Regions from separate parts of the Homo sapiens genome. Here region 2 is linked to region 1. Evidence: fine-mapped expression QTL. Tissue or cell type: whole blood. Region 1 holds a variant in brackets; the other region holds the start of a gene. All regions are shown on one strand. Distances are from middle to middle.

What was found. PIP is the estimated chance that this variant, and not a neighbour inherited with it, causes the effect.
Region 2: CAPRIN2 starts here. The variant in region 1 is fine-mapped to the expression of CAPRIN2 in whole blood (TOPMed, PIP 0.93).

The regions. Positions count from the first base shown.
Region 1 is chr12:30,815,374-30,823,479 of GRCh38, forward strand. No RefSeq gene overlaps it. Among named protein-coding and RNA genes, the nearest start is that of LINC00941, 24 kb to the left of the region's middle. The variant C/T (reference allele first, on the strand shown) is at 3,553.
Region 2 is chr12:30,751,810-30,759,915 of GRCh38, forward strand. It overlaps CAPRIN2 (caprin family member 2), which reads right to left and starts at 3,142. Exons shown (of 19, transcript NM_001385503.1): 1 at 2,942-3,142; 2 at 1,535-1,750. The coding sequence starts at 1,711. LOC645485 (a long non-coding RNA gene) reads left to right here and starts at 3,265. Exons shown (of 2, transcript NR_135046.1): 1 at 3,265-3,462. RefSeq lists enhancers at 2,516-2,595, 2,599-2,768 and silencers at 2,696-3,375, 4,467-4,670.

The DNA.
Region 1 (8,106 bases):
TACTATTTTGGTGCCATGTCTAAGGACTAAGTCTTGAATATTTATCCCATATTTTCTTCTAAAAGTTTTATAGTTTTACATTTTATATTTAAATCTGTGGTCCATTTGAATTGATTTTTATATAAGGTAGGAGCTTTAGGTTGCGGTTCAATGTTTTGCACATGACAGTTCAATTGTTCCAATAGCACCTATTGAAAGAGTGTCTTTGTTTACTGGGTTGCCTTTGCACCTCTGTCAGAAGTCAATTGGCTGTATTTGTGTAGACCTATTTCTAGACTCTCTGTATTCTTCTTTTTACCTTTTATCTTTGCATGTAAATTATAGAATCATAGAATCATCTTGTCTCTATAAAATATCCTGTGCTGGGATTTTGATGGAGTTGCATTAAAGGTATAGATCAATTTGGGAAGAATTAAAATCTTTACTGTGTTGGGTCTTCCAATCCATGAATCCATATACTCTTGATTTATTTAGAACTTCTTTGATTTTGTTTACAGCATTGTGTAAGTTTTCAGCACACAGATCCTATATATACCTAGAAGTTTTATGTTTCAGAGATATTATAGGTGCAATTATTTCAAAATTTTTGGTTTTATTTATTGCTAGTGTTTAGAAATTCAGCTGTGTGTTGTGTGTTGACCTTGTATTACTTTTAGGGTGTGTGTATGTGTGTGTGTGTGTGCATTCCTTGGAATTTTCTATGTAGAAATCATCTTGCTTATTAATAAGAATGATTTCTTTCCCCCAAGGAAGTCATTTTTCCATCCAAGGAGTCACTCTGGTTCTCTCTCCATGTCTGTCTATACAGTGCTCACCATTCTGGGAAGAAGAAAGGTCCCTTATCTAGAGCTCCACTCATCTTTGGGCCTTACGGGTGTGTGTGTTTTGGTAGAGGGAGTGTTCAAGTATCTCCCCAACAATGTGGAGACCAGGTGTGTGTGGTGGCTCACACCTGTAATCCCAGCACTTTGGGAGGCCAAGATGGGAGGAATACTTGAGCCAAGAGTTGGAGACCAACCTAAGCAAAATAGTGAAACCCAGTATCTGTAAAAATACAAACATTAGCTGGGTGTGATGACGTGCTTCTCTAGTCCCAGCTACTTGTGGGAGGCTGAGTTGACAGGATCCATTGATCCCAGGAAGTCAAGGCTGCAGTGAGCCATGATTGTGCCACTGCACTCCAGCCTAGGCAACAAAGTGAGACCTTGTCTCAAAAAACAAAAAACCAATACGGAGATCTAGCAGAAACGCATTTAACTGTTATATTGGTATCTGATGCAATAAAGCAATTTTTCATTGCTTTGAGATAGAAATAAAGTTAAAACCAAAAGTGGCCTCACAAAAAAACTGTGCAAATATCTGTATGTAGAACTCTCTCTGACTTGTCCCTCTCACCAGGCTACAAGGAGAAGGGAGAGCTGGGAGCTGGGAGGGGAGCAGGAAGAGGGAGATCTGTGTAGGGAGGGGGAAGGGTGCCCATCCGTGACAATTGTAGGACATGTCTTTCTTCAAAATGTGGCTGCTGGAGAACCTAGACTCTGGCAACTGCGAGCTGCCCTGTGAGTCAGGTTTGGGCTTCCCCGCCTGCCTTCAGACAGGACCTGTGTCATGTGGCAGCTGGATAGCATGAGTGGAAGGACATCAGCAGAGTGGGGAACTGGGTGGTAGAGACCCTCACACCTGCCAGGAAGGTCAATGTGACTGCGAAAACACCACCAGATTGAAAATCTTCCTATATAGACCCTTGATATATCAGCCACTCCACCCCACTGGTCACTGTGGATGGGTGAACTAAACATGTCTTTCCACAAAATGGTGAGACAGCCAAGTAAAAAGTGGTCCCTGGAGAACCTCCGACTGGCCTGTGCACTGGGAGGATGGGGCAGGGCCTCAGGAAGTTCGTGCTGTTTGTAGGGGGGAGGAGCCTGGCCTCTCCTGTTCCTGGGTGGTGACCTGGAATTCAATCTGTGAGATGGGGGCCTTTTAACAGGAACCCCTTTAGCTTTGCTGAGAATCTTTTTTCTTTTTGCCCAATAAATTCTGTAACCACTCACCCTTCAAAGTGTCTGCATGCCTAATCTTTCCTGGTTGTGCGATGAGAACCTGTTTTTTTCTACAACAATGAGAAGACACAGAAGGAGCCAAAATATGCCCTTTTCTTGCCCCTATTCTCCCCACAGTCCTCTCTCTGCTGACCTTTACCCCAGAACCAGGTCTTCTTTAAAAAGCAGAATTGGCCCAGACTCTATCAGCAAGTTTTTGATTGTCCTGGGGTTTAAAGAGGGCTTCTGGGAGCCAGACAACCCTTTTCTTGGTCTCTTTGCTAAACTGATTCTAACTCCTAGAGAATGGCATTTCAATTATTCTAGGCCTGTAGGCATGGAGATACCATCATCCTCCTTTGGAACATTTATGATAATGGCTTGATGGTGCTGAAAACCCCAATTACCAGGGTTCTAGTCTATCCCTAACCTAAATTCTTATTCTATATTTTTGCCTTTAGGAGTGCTGAGTGTGCATCGTTCAGCCTCTATAAAGCAACCATCACCCTTTTGATGATTCCAAACTCCTCATTTTCAGAGTGTTCTTATTTCTCAGAAAGATTTGAACTTGGGCATGGAAAGGTCTGCTTCTCCTGTGCTGGCTCTGCTGTCTTCAGCTGGAGGGTCAGGAGACATTCTGGATGGAGAACGGCTGTCAGGGAGTGATAGGCAGCTTCACTCCAGACAAGTACCTGGAATTTGGAACCAGGGAAACGGGAGGATAAGAGACATCCTCTTGTTCTTTGACCTGATTCCCCAGTCAGCGGGAAGCCCACTGGGGGCTATAACTAACAGCTTCTGAATAGCAGGGAAATTTTCACTAATCCAAGTCAAAACCTAGAAAAAAGCCTCCTCTTTTTATCTCAAAACCATGAAAATCTTCTAGGAACAGGCAGAAAACAAACAGCTGGAGTTTTTTGTTTTTGTTTTTGTTTTTTTTTTTGCTTCTTGTGGCCATGCACATGAAGAATTACTAAAAGATCAAGATGTAGAAATAAAAGAGGCAGGGCTGCTCAGAGGACAAATAAAAATTAAGTTGATCAAATCAAAGACCTTAAGTTGTGCTTCTTCAAGTCCTTTGGTTCCTCAGCCACTGGCTGTTTTCTCCTGCCATGCAGGGGTTTTCAGGAGGGCTACAGGAGATTTGGCAATTATGTTTCACAAGGTCATAGGGAAAATTCCATTTTAGGTGGAGAGTAGACATCACCAAGCACATCATGGATGTGGTTCATTGATGTCACTATTCATTGAACTAATCTATCCTGATGATAGGCATCGTACATCAGTCTTAGACTAAATGACCAGCAGGTCAGGCTAGGAAAGATCCACTGCCCTAGATGGGGAACTCCCATCTATACCTCCTTCCCTCACAGCAGCACTGGGCAAGGTGTCCTTGTCACAGCTGACATCTTCCTTGTAGGGTGCAGGGAGGAAGGCTACTCTGGCCAGTGTTGACATTAGACAAGAAGGGAGCCTGTGGGTATGAGTGGGAAAGGTGAGGGGATCATAA[C/T]TGGCAGGACCCTGGGAGTTGTGGGCAGGAGCCCACCCCATAGCCCATGCCACTGTCCAGTGAGACCTGGGAATGAAAAATTCAAAAGAGAAGGCAGCAGAAAACTTTTGAGAGAGAGAAAGATAGAGAGAGAGAGAGAGAGAGAGAAAGAGAGAGAGAGTGTGTGTGTGTTGGGTCTGTCAAAACTCCAAATTTCCATCTAGGGGCCAAATATACAGCAAGAACCAGTTGTCAGTTCAAAAGGGCCCCCATCACCATCATAACTAGAATCTTAGCAGCGCAGTGGTAGAAACCTTGGGAAACTAGAAAAAGGATGTTACCTAAAGTCAATTTCTAGAAGACCTTTATGGCAATGAAAAGGAACCAAGAAAATCTAGATGGGCTGAACTTGGAGAACCACAAAGACTCTTGTTTCTAGACTCTAGAAACAGTTAATCTGGGAGTTACTGACACTTTCTCCACTTTTTCATGAATCAGTCCATGAAAGCACAACTCATCGTCATTGAGGAATGGATGATGGTCTATTTTAATTTCTAGCTTGCTGATACAAGTGCCAAGAGGGGCTGAACACTGGGACTACAAGAGATTCAATGAGCCAATTCAGGGTGAATAGTTGGGTCCTATTTTCCCCAAAGCAGTTGCTTTTCAACCATCATTGTCAAAATACATTTGAAGGACACAACACCATAGGGCAATGTTCTAGGGAGATGCAAACTAGCATAAGAGTTGCCCCCACAAAATTTGTTTCCACCACTGTGAGCTCCTGCTTGCTGCCTCCTCCCTTGTCCTGGTCCCCTCCATGGCAGCTGGAGGAAAGCCTGGTCTAAAGTGAGGAAAGGATAGAGAAATGAGCATGACAGAGTTGATTTTTGGATGAACAATGGTTTCACCCAGTTTCCCTTCTTGAGCCCCTGATGTCTGCGTTTGAGTAGAGCAGAGGCTTGGAGTGAGGAGGCCCCTCCCTCCAGCCAGCCTGAGACTACTTCCATACTCTCAGTCAGTGCACATTTTCCCCAGGAAACCAATGACAGAAGTCCATGCTGTGGCAATAAAGAGAAGGTCAGCCACCTCTTCTGTGGAGGATTCTGATGCCAGCTCAGGGACACAGAGGCTGGTCAGAATGCCTCCCTACACCTCACAGTGAAGCATTGTTCTTGGAGAAGTATGAAGCCAAAGAACCCAAAACGAGTGGATAGAGTGAAGACAAGAATAAAACACGTCAGGCAGGGCATGGTGGCTCATGTCTGTAATCCCAGCACTTTGGGAGGCCAAGATAGGCAGATCACCTGAGGTCAGGAGTTTGAGATCAGCCTGGTCAACATGGTGAAACCCAGTCTCTACTAAAAATACAAAAATTAGCTGGGCATGGTCGTGGGCACCTGTAATCCCAGCTGCTCGGGAGGCTGAGGCAGGAGAATCTCTTGAACCTGGGAGGTGGAGGTTGCAGTGAACCAAGATCACGCCATTGCACTCCAGCCTGGGCAACAAGAGTGAAACTCCATCTCAAAAAACAACAGAAAGAATAAAACAGGTCTTGGTTTCACAAAGTAAGACGTGGTACAAATATACCTATCACATGATTTTAGAAAAATTGAGGGAAATGGAAGCAAACACAAGATATTCAAAACAGCAATGTCCTAACTTGTTTGCAGATACCAGAATAATGACTTACAGATACCAGAATAATGAGGGAGAAGGAAAGGGAAAAATCAGTTGGGGAATACTTGGACTGCAAAAGCAGCCTGCCTCAAAAGTCAGAGCAACAGGAAAACACACTCACACACACACACACACACACACACACAAAACAAACAAACAAAAACAAACATGGGTAAAACCTCAGGCTGCACATGCACACAGATAAGCAGACAGGGTCCTGCAGAGAAGCCCATTGTTCTTTGTATAATTAGCAAACTCCCAGGAAAAAGTTTCTTCCCCTTTTCAGGCATATACACGGTGGGCTCCACAGAAACTGGCACAGGGAGGAGGGGGACTTACCTAAAACAAACCCACAGTTATATAAATAAGAGAAGTGGCGCTTTGTGCCTGCCTAAAGACATACCTACAGCTGCATAAGGGGAATTGCACGGACAGCTTTACTGGTAAAAAGTTACTAAAACAGTTACAGGGAGGAGAGCAGTTGCTTATAGAAGTTTACTGCAATCAGCTGCAACCTGGCAATCCACTCGGACTCCCCTCTGCTGCGGAGAGCTTTCTTCTTTAGCTTATTAAACTTTTGCTCCAACCTCATCCTTGTATCCACATTCCTTAACCTTCTTGGATGTAGGACAAAGAACCCTGGGTACTAGTTCAAACAATGAGAAACTGCTACAATAAGATGCATCAGTGAGACTGCAACAATACCTTTGCTCATCATACAAATTAAAAGAAAAATCATTCCCTTTCCCTCAATCACATAGAGAAAAGCACTTAAGTGTTCAGAAGTAACCCTTGTCACACTCCAAATACAAAATGATTTACATGCAGCAAATTACACAAGAAGTGAATTAAAATATAATCATTATATTCACTTGGCACAATTGTAACTCCATTAAAAAAAATTTGAAAAATACTGAAACTGACCTGAATTTAAGTTTCTTCAACAGAAACATTAGCAAAGTAATAAAAAATTACATGAGATGTATCGAAGCAAAATGCCTTCTTGAGTTTTTCCCTTAAATTTCTCTGTGTTTTTTTAAAATATAGTTTTAATGCCAAGGGAACTCACAACTATATTTTAAAATGAATATTATTGCATTGTTTTTGCATTATCTTGTGGGACAGAAATGCAAAGAGTTATGGATTACCACCTTAGAAGTAGAGACAGTGGTCTGTTTTTGTATTCAAACGGTCCCAGATTTAGATCTCCGCACAATTAAACCAGAATAGGGGGATTGTGTACTCACAGGTGCCATGGGCACACGATATGGGTGCATACACATTTGGACATATGTACACAACCTACTACATACACACATGTGTAACACACACAAAGACTCTCTCACCCATGCTCCTCCCTCCCACACCTACCTATACACCCAGGGTAAAATGGAACCCAACTCAATTACCTATATTGTGCAAGATATATCAAGTGCATTGCCAATTACCTTTACATTAGAAAACTAAACCAAGCCAGGAAAAAAAAAAAGGATTACTACTTAAGGGATTTATAACAAATTATTGGGCATACACAATACTTAGTATAATTCTCCAACAAAGGCTTCTATTGAACCCTACCTGGGTAAAGGAAACCACAACCATTTAAATAATACAAGAAAACCAAACCCGAGTTACACTGGCAAAAGTGAAAACAAAGTGGGTGGCTACAGGACTTTGTAAACACTCTCCTTCCTCTCCTCTCCTCTGGGAAAATAAAAACCAAAAAAAAAAAAAAAAAAAAAAAAAGCCCAAAACAAATCAAAAAATGAAAACTGCAAGAAAAGTGTCAAACCACAAAACAAAAGAGCGCTCCACAGAAGCTCAGCACATCTTCATTTGGTGGGCGCTGGTGCCCTTTCCCTGTGGGCGGCGCCAGCTCCTTTCTCGGCTGCCTGCCCAGCTGCTGGGCTGGAGCTCCGCGTGCTGGGTGTAGGTCAAGTGATCCCGTCGCGGGCGGGCGGAGGTGGCCGGGCAGCCGCCGCTGTGCCCGGGTCTGGGGTGAGCTGCACTGCTGCCCTGGGCCCCGGCTCCCACGCCTGTTTCCCGGAGCTCCGCGGCTCCGGCTGCTTCGCCCTCCCTCTGTGGGCTGGGCTGGGGTCCTCGCGAGAAGTCCTGCCCCGCTCCCTTCTCCAAATCCACAGGCCCTGTTTCTCTGGAGACAGGGAGGCTCATACAGGATATGTGCAAATGCTTTTATTACAAGCTGAGTTGAAAGACACCCGTTTGCTCTCGGGTCCTTTTGGTGAGCGCCGCAGGAAGCCGGGCTCCTCTCTCCCCAGAGGCGGCCGCAGGTTCGCGGCGCAGGGCCTGCAGTGCCAGGAGCAGGCAGGGGCCTCTGCCCTCCCCTTCGTCCCTGATCTCCCGCCTCCTCCTCACCCGCCGTCTCTGCGAACTCACCCTGGGCTGCGGCCTTTCTTCCCTCAAAGCAGGCCCTTTACACACCGGACTCCGCGTCTTGTCCCAATACAAATACATGAAAATGCGGTTCCTCAGGTGGCGAGAACAGTGAGCACTTCTGAAGCAAGCCCATTAGGAACATTGAAGTAAATCTGAAGCCTAACGCCCCGGCGCCCTGACTACCGGCTGCCGAGCGGACTCTGCGGTCCCGCAGCTTCCCTGCACTCGCGGCCCTGGACGCGCATCTCCCAGGCTTTTCTGCGCTGGCCCCTGCCGGCATTGGCCAGGTCCCCGCAGTTCACTAAAGGCAAGAGGGCCTCTGCAGGGCTCCGCGGGGCGCCCCGCTGAGGACGCTGTGGGCCTCGCACTCCACCTCGTCTCCTGTGCTGTCACAGGCGGAGGCCAGCTTCTGGGTTGAGACCTCTGTGAACTCCGGGTCTTCAGCAAATTGCCCCAGTCCTGAAATCAAAACCTAGGGGGCGGGGTTGGAGGCCATGA
Region 2 (8,106 bases), 64 kb before region 1:
CTTGAAGTTATTTTTCATATTATATTTGATACTTAAGGAAATTATGAAAAATAAATTGCATTTGTTGGCCCCATAATAATGACATAAACCCACTATGGTATTTTTTTTTTTTTTTTTTTTTTTTTTTGAGACAGAATTTCACTCCGTTGCCCAGGCTGGAGTGCAGTGTCGCGATCTCGGCACACTGCAACCTCCACCTCCTGGGTTCAAGCGATTCTCCTGCCTCAGCCTCCTGAGTAGGTGGGATTACAGGCACCCCCCACCACGCCTGGCTAATTCTTTTTGTATTTTTAGTAGAGACGGGGTTTCATCATGTTGGCCAGGCTAGTCTCAAACTCCTGACCTCAGGTGATCTACCTGCCTTGTCCTCCCAAAGCGCAGGGATTACAGGTGTGAGCCACTGCACCCGGACCCACTATGGTACTCTAAAAGCATTCTTTAGGTTCCTCCTGTATTGGCTTTAGTGGAAAAATTCTTTCCCAGAAGGTTGAAACAAAAGTACTCGTACTATCTGGTATTCAAAATTAAAGAGGTACTATAGGTAAGCTAGAGAGCATAAGCATACATATATGTAGTTCCTCCACCTGAGGGAGGCTCCGTCAATAGATCCTGCTTTGATCATTTATCACAGTGATGGGGAATTTGTGCTGACCTGGCACACTCACCTTACCACACTTGTGATCAACTGCATACGTTAAAAAGATAAATGGTGAGAGCTACAGAGAAGCTACTAGCAACTTGCCCTTCTTTACTTTCTTAGGTTAAAAAAAAAAAAAAAAAAGAGTCAACCAGACTCTAAAGAGTCTCTTCACACTCCTCCATTAAAAGCAACTTTAAGGTCTAACTAGGTCTTGGCACAAAAGTACTTAACAACACATAGGTCCAGATAGTCACTCAACCTCACCTGTCCAAAAGCAGAAGAGAAACGTAATACAGCAAAGCAACGTGCAGTCTGTTTCACAGGCTACATGACTCAGGAAATGAAGAAGGATTTAGATCTTTACAACAGCATTTTCTGTAGCTAGGCTTAACTCCTGGGTCTCTTTACAAGGCTGACTACCACGCTTTCACCTAGCAATCTTAAATCTTCACCTAACACCACAAAAGTAAGTGGTAAAACATTTTCTAGTTCTACTACGGTTAAACCTTCCAACGACTGCAGCAGTTATACTGCAATATCAACTGCTGCAGAAAGTCACAAGGAAAACAAGCTAAAAAATCAGCTATTAACACATCTATGAAAAGAAACATTAATACTACATAAGGAATTAATCTCACCTAAAATAGCTAGCTCTTAAAGTATTTCAACAGCAGCATGCATAATGTAACTATGAAGAATATTTTTATTCCGTTGTTTTGACAAATGAAACAGAAAATGTTTAATATTTCCAACACGTAACCTGCTTGTTTAAAGCAGCTAAACCTAAGGTTAGTTAAATTTTTAGTAGAGAACACCTATGAGCTCTGAAAGAAAAATGTCAGCTCCTTAATCTTTAAGATCATGCATCTACAGGACTGGAAGAAAAAAAGTTACCTTCTTTTTCTCGATGTTTCTAATTTTGTGTTTAAGGCATATGAGTCCATTTTCAATATAGGTCTCATACGCTTGGGAAGGAGATGCAGCAGAACTCAGAGTAGACTGCAGGGGGCTCAAGGCCCGCTGGCTTTCCCCATGCTGACTGTGGTTCACTTGGGGCTTGGCTGACTTCATATTCCCCTCTCTTTCCTCCTCTGAATGGCCTGAAGGTGACTGGTAACCAAAAGGGGATGAAAAGAGTTGCACCATTGAAACAGATGAGGCTGAAGGAGGTGGGGGAAAGTTAAGTATAAAATTAGGACTAGAGGGACACAGCCAGGCAATAACTTCCCTGGAAAGTCTAGACCACTCCCTTAAACTCTTTTCCACAGAAGTGAGCTCGAAACCCAATGATGCTTGAGATACTTGTACTTCCATCCTACTTTTAAAGTAATTAGTGCCGCTAGCCAATAAGGATAGCCTTTACATAGGCAAAATCTCCCAATACGGAGGATGTTTCCAGAAATTCGATTTTCCACATAGGGAGGAAGAACTGCAACGGCTTCAGAGCTCCTTTCTTCTCATGAGGGCAGATCACATTCTAAATAATTCCCATGGCCACGTGATGACACCAAAAGAATAAGCTTTCCACACCGGGACCTAAGGCTGAGCCACTCAAACCTCTTTACATGATCCCTCACCACCAGCCCTAACCTCAATCCTGAACGTTTGGAAGAAAATCCAAACTCACAACATTCTTTTATAGCTCTAAGTGAACCAGCAGCTTCTTGAACAAGAATGCTAACTTCCCCGATTGCTCTGGGGCCTACAAGGCAATCCATCACTACTGGACATTTGCAGACAGGTACTCTCTCAACCTGCAGGAACCCCGCGTTTATTCTCAGTTGTTTGGTTTAGACTAGCCCAAAACCGCTTACACCCAACCAGTTTAAGAGCTCATTCTAGCGAGCCCTTCCCGTGCCCTAATCAGTGGCCCTTGCGCACTTACGTATCCGTCTCTCGACCTCCAAGCACCCGAGGTATCCCTTTCTCCCCCCTTAGGAGCATCCCCAAACCAAGGACAGAACAGGCCCCATGCACGCCAGCGCGCACCCCCTCAAGTCTCCGGGGGAGCCTGAGCGAAGAGCACCTCTCCCGAGCGGCCACGGAGAGCCCTGCAGGCACCGACCCCCACCCTTCCCACAGCCGCCCCGGGTACGCAGAAGCCGCTTCTGCAAGGCCCCGGGGGAGGCTGACCTGCGGAAAACGCACCGACCGCGGCCCTCGGGAGCCCCGCCCCGCCCCGGGGATGCCAAGCCGCCCCTCCACCTCGCAGCGGCGCCGGCCGCCCAGACCTGCCCACCCTCGCCGGGTCAGCCGCCTCCCTCCGCCGCGCCGACCGAGGCCGCCGCAGCCCGACTTCACCTCCCCAGGCAGCCGAGGCCGCCGCTGCCGCAGCCCGGGCCCGCCTTCCAAAGCCTGGGGGAGGCAGGAGCGCTGCGGAGGTGGACCGGCGCCACCCCGCACTCGCGTCTCCTCCTCCTGTCTCCTCCCTCTCCCCTCCCGGTCCTCGCCCGCGGCCTCTGCGGCGCCAGAGACCCAGCCGACTCAGCCGCTCGCGCCCAGGCCCGCCCACCGCGCCGCGCGTGGCTTTTGTAGGCCGCGCCCCGCCCCGGCCCGCTCCGCCCTCGGCCGCCCCGCCACCGCCTCCTTCCGGTGCTCCTTCCCGGCTGCAGCTGGCCGCCAGCGCTTGTCGGGTGTTAGTTCCGGGCCCAGCTTGGGCTGGTGGTAGGTCGGGAGAGGGCGCGGTCTCCCAGCCTTTGCGCAGATTGCGGGGCACCAGGTGGGGCCGAGGCGACGCCGAACGCCGGCAGGCCGGAAACCGCGCAGCCCCGCTGGACCTCGCTGATTGCCGGCGGCACCGGTGGTTTCGCGACCTTGAACAGGTGACTCCAATAGCTCCAGGAGGGCAGCGAGCCCTTCGCGGAACTACCAGATAAGCCATGCTTGAGGCTGTCGTAGCCTAGTGGGTAGTCGTGAAATGCAGATGCGCCTTTGCCCCTCAGATAGCATCTTTCATAGTAGGATGGGGAAAAAACACCGTTTCCTTACCGGGGAATCAGCCTGTAAGAGCAGAATGCCCCAAATCAGCATCGCCATAAAAACGGAGTAGGTGACTTCGCAACCTGCAATAATAGGATTGAGTTTATTCAAGCCGTATTATTTGTTCATGTGACACACATTAATTGACTGGCACGCAGAGAAAGCTGTAAAAAATCTTTGTAAGGTTACATAAAATTAAGAGAAAAGTCTGGAAATATGTAAAAGTTTATTGAGGAAAGGAAGGTGTTTCTGATACCAAATAAGAAACACACACACACACTCAGCAATACTTTGCCCCAACATGTGTTTACTTATTACACCAAGTGGAGTTTTTTAGGTCCTGATTGTCCCTGACGCTCTGATAAAAAATATTGAGACTAGCAAAAGAACAGAAAATTCAGAAGAAGAATCAAGGAAACAAAGGTCTAGTTTTAAAAGCCTTGGTCAACTTCACACAAATTAATTTTAACATTACTTAATACATTTTTTTGGCATCTATTATCCGTGTTCTTTTCGGTCCCTGGTGACATAATGTACCCTAATGTTGCATTTTAACTTTGAATCTCTGAATCCCATATGTGTTCTTCAGGGTCAGAGAAATACTAGATTTTCCCTTTTTCTCATTGTTTATAAACAGAGAAACGCAGAAGATGCTGAACATGAGGAGAGGAAGGCTATGCCTTCACCTTTGGTAACACAAAAAACAGTGGCCATAAGAAAAAATGTGAAGGACACACTGTTGGATCAATGAGTTGACACAAAGTTACAGCACAGCCTGAGTTGTAGTCCGAGCTAATGATGAACCTAAAAATGGTATTTCAGTCAGATTAATCATGAAATGTTTGCCCCCTGCCGGCGCAGTGGCTCAAGCCTGTGATCCCAGCACTTTGGGAGGCCGAGGCGGGGTGGATCACCTGAGGTCGGGAGTTCGAGGCCAGGCTGGCCAGCGTGGTGAATATCCATCTCTACTAAAAATACAAAAATTAGCCGAGCATGGCGGCATGTGCCTGTAATCATGGCTACTCAGAGGCTAAGGCAGGAGAATCGCTTGAAACCCGGAGACGGACGCTGCAGTGAGCCGAGATTGTGCCGCTGCACTCCAGCCTGGGTGACAGAGCAAGACTCTATCTCAAAAAAAGAAAGAAAGAAAGAAATGTTTGCCTTCTAATCGGTCAGGCAAAAAGGAGGCCGTAAATTTTAAATTTTCTACTAAATGGATATTCTTCTAAATGAATAAATCCATACAGATTTACTTCTCAGGAAGGATTATAAAAATGCATCACGAAAGAATGCAAAAGCAAAAATAATTGAATTTCAAGTCCAGTAGGGTACAGTCTGTATACGTATGGCGTGACATTTGTAGGAGAACATACCACAGTAGATACTCTTGAAGCAATGTCTTCTGAACAAGTTAAAAAGATGATTCAGATAAAAGCTTTTCTGCTAGAGGAGATCTTTAAAGTCAGTAAGTCTGGCTTACTTTGAAAGCACATGTCCCCAAAACTTTTATTTGTCAGGAGTTTAGTTTATTTTACCCTCTCCCACTCCCTATTTTCTGTAAGACCGTGACTTTTCTTGCCAACTGTGAGGCAGTATCTGTGGCATGCCACCTCCAAGCTTAGCAAGGAATAACTATATTGGAAATATGATAAAAAGTGTTGTCTCGAATCATTGATAGAAGAATATATTCATTTATTCATTCAACAGATGTTTACTTAGCACTTGCTATGTAGTAGGTGATAAGGCATAATGGTGACTGAGACAATATAGCTTCTGCCTTCGTGGAGCTAAGTGGGAATTCAGTAAAAGCTATAGATGTAAATGGCAAAAACAACCAAATCAAAAAACCCGAAGACAAAAATACTAAAGACTTTAATAATGGATGGTTTGATTTCTACAAAAACAGCCAGACTTTACGTCCTTTGAAAATGTGAAGGTGTTAAATATGCACTGTCTGACAAATGTTCAATTGCTGCAGGGATGGTTATGCTGTAGTCACTTAAAATTAATATAGCTTCATATTGTTGAAACTGGAAAGATAAATCCACCAAAGGATGTGAAACCTGGTAGCGTGTTAGTAGAGATATGAGAAATTATCTTAGACACATGGTTGTGGGTGATAGAAGTCTGTTTCTTATTGGCTCTACGAGACTTTGTGGAGAATTGCCACCAAGAGACAGAGAGAGAGGGAGAAAGTCACCAAGAAAAATAATAAGAAGGCTAAGAAAGAAAAAGACAGGAACAATAACATAAGGTTGTTAAAAAGATAGTACTTTTGGCCGGGTGTGGTGGCTTAACGCCTGTAATCCCAGCACTTTGGGAAACCAAGGCAGGCAGATCACCTGAAATCAGGAGTTCAAGACCAGCTTGGCCAACATGGCGAAACCCCATCTGTACTAAAAATACAAAAATCAGCCGGGCATGGTGGTGCGCCCCTGTAATCGCAGCTACTTGGGACACTAAGACAGAAGAATCGCTTGAACCCAGGAGGAGAAGGTTGCAGTGAGCCAAGATTGCGCCACTGCACTCCAGCCTGGATGACAAGAGCGAAACTCTGTCTCAAAAAAAAAAAAAAAAAAAAAATATATATATATATATACAGTACTTTCACATACTTGCTGATTCATAGAGTGTCTATTCAAATATTTGAGAAACTTTTTATGAAAGTAAAGAACTGAGAAATATAGACCTCAGGTAGGAAAAAAAACTTGCCATAATAGTTTAGGGTATTTTTAGAGAAATATCTAGTTTGTAAGATTAATAATTTGGTAGGCTTATTTTTTCATAAAATTATACATTCCTATTGGTTTTGTTGATACTGTTTTTCTGATATTGAAGTTAATGCATTAATAGTGCTCCACCATTAAGTACCTTTGAAATAAAAGTTCTTTAGAGGAGGAGTAATCAGTGTAGAACTTATGAATGTGTGTCATTAAATCAATAATATCAAGCCCATAAAAATATGATTTCTGTCCAACTTTGAAGTATTATAAAGTGTCAACAGCATGGGCTTTGGAGCCAGACACACATGGATTGGATTCTTGTTCCTGCCCCTTACTAGCTGAATGATCTTGGGCAAGTGACTGAAATTCTGTGGGCTTCAGTTTTTTCAGCTGTAAAACTGCTGATAATAAAACAAACATAATATTACCTATTAACAGCATTGTTAAGGATTTCATTTCGTTTCTGTAAAAGCATCTGACTAGAGACTAGGCCATGAAAACATATCCTCCACTGAGATACCTGTATTTGCTGCTTTTGCCATAATACGAAGCCCAGCATTTCTCCTAGTAGCCAAGGAGAACTAGAGAACTGTGGAATTTATGGCTAAGGAATCCCACCCCCCCGCCCTTATTTGAAAGACAAGGTATATAAAGCTGGTGGACATTTGTGAGTTTTCCAAGACCTAAAGAATCTAGGTCTTCTGCCCTCTAATGCAACATGCACTCCAGGCCGCTTCATCCCTTTCCCTTGCTGCTTCCATGGAGTAAATAAAGTATAGAAATAGGCAATTAAACTTGAAGATTGAAACCAAAAAGAATAAGCAATTCAGTGTTACAGTGTCTTCAAAGGAATTCATTCAGAAAGACATTTTAAAATATTCATATCTTTTGATCCAGTAGCCTTTATTTTAGGAATCTCCCCTATCAAAATAATCAGAGATGCAAACAATCACTTATTTATGAAAATGCTAGGCACCACATTTTTTTAAGTGGTGGGAAATTGTAAACAACAACCTAGACACTCAACAATAGAGAAATGGCTAAATAATGTGACTCTAAGCCATGAATTTTAATTCAAGTAGTACAAATCATCTTTTCAAAGAATATTCAATGACATGATATTATATGAAGTGAAAAAAGGGCAGGATAAAACACGGTATAAAACATTTAGTAAGATTGTGACTTTGTAAAATATTTCATTTTAAATATGCATGGAAAAGGCTGAAAGATGTTTTCACTTTATTTTTATAGCATATGTTTAGTTTTTATACCAAACCAGAAAAAGTATTTTCCCAAAAACATGAAAGCTGCCCCCTCCACCGATTACCATTATTAACTTTTTGCTTATATTCTTCTAGACTTATTTCCAAGAAAATATCTGTATAATTTTTTACAAAAATGGGAATGTACTAAACATTTTGCAATTCTGCTATTTTGACTTAAAATATAATGAGCATCTTTTTATTAAAATAAACTTGGTGTGGTGGCTCACGCCTGTAATCCCAGCACTTTGGGAGGCTGAAGCGCGCGGATCATGACATCAGGAGATCGAGACCATCCTGGCCAACAGGTGAAACCCCGTCTCTACTAAAAATACAAAAAATTAGCCGAGTGTGGTGGCGGGTACCTGCAGTCCCAGCTACTTGGGAGGCTGAGGCAGGAGAATGGCGTGAACCCGGGAGGGAGAGCTTGCAGTGAGCCGAGATCATGCCACTGCACTCCAGCCTGGGGGACAGAGCAAGACTCTGTCTCTAAATAAATAAA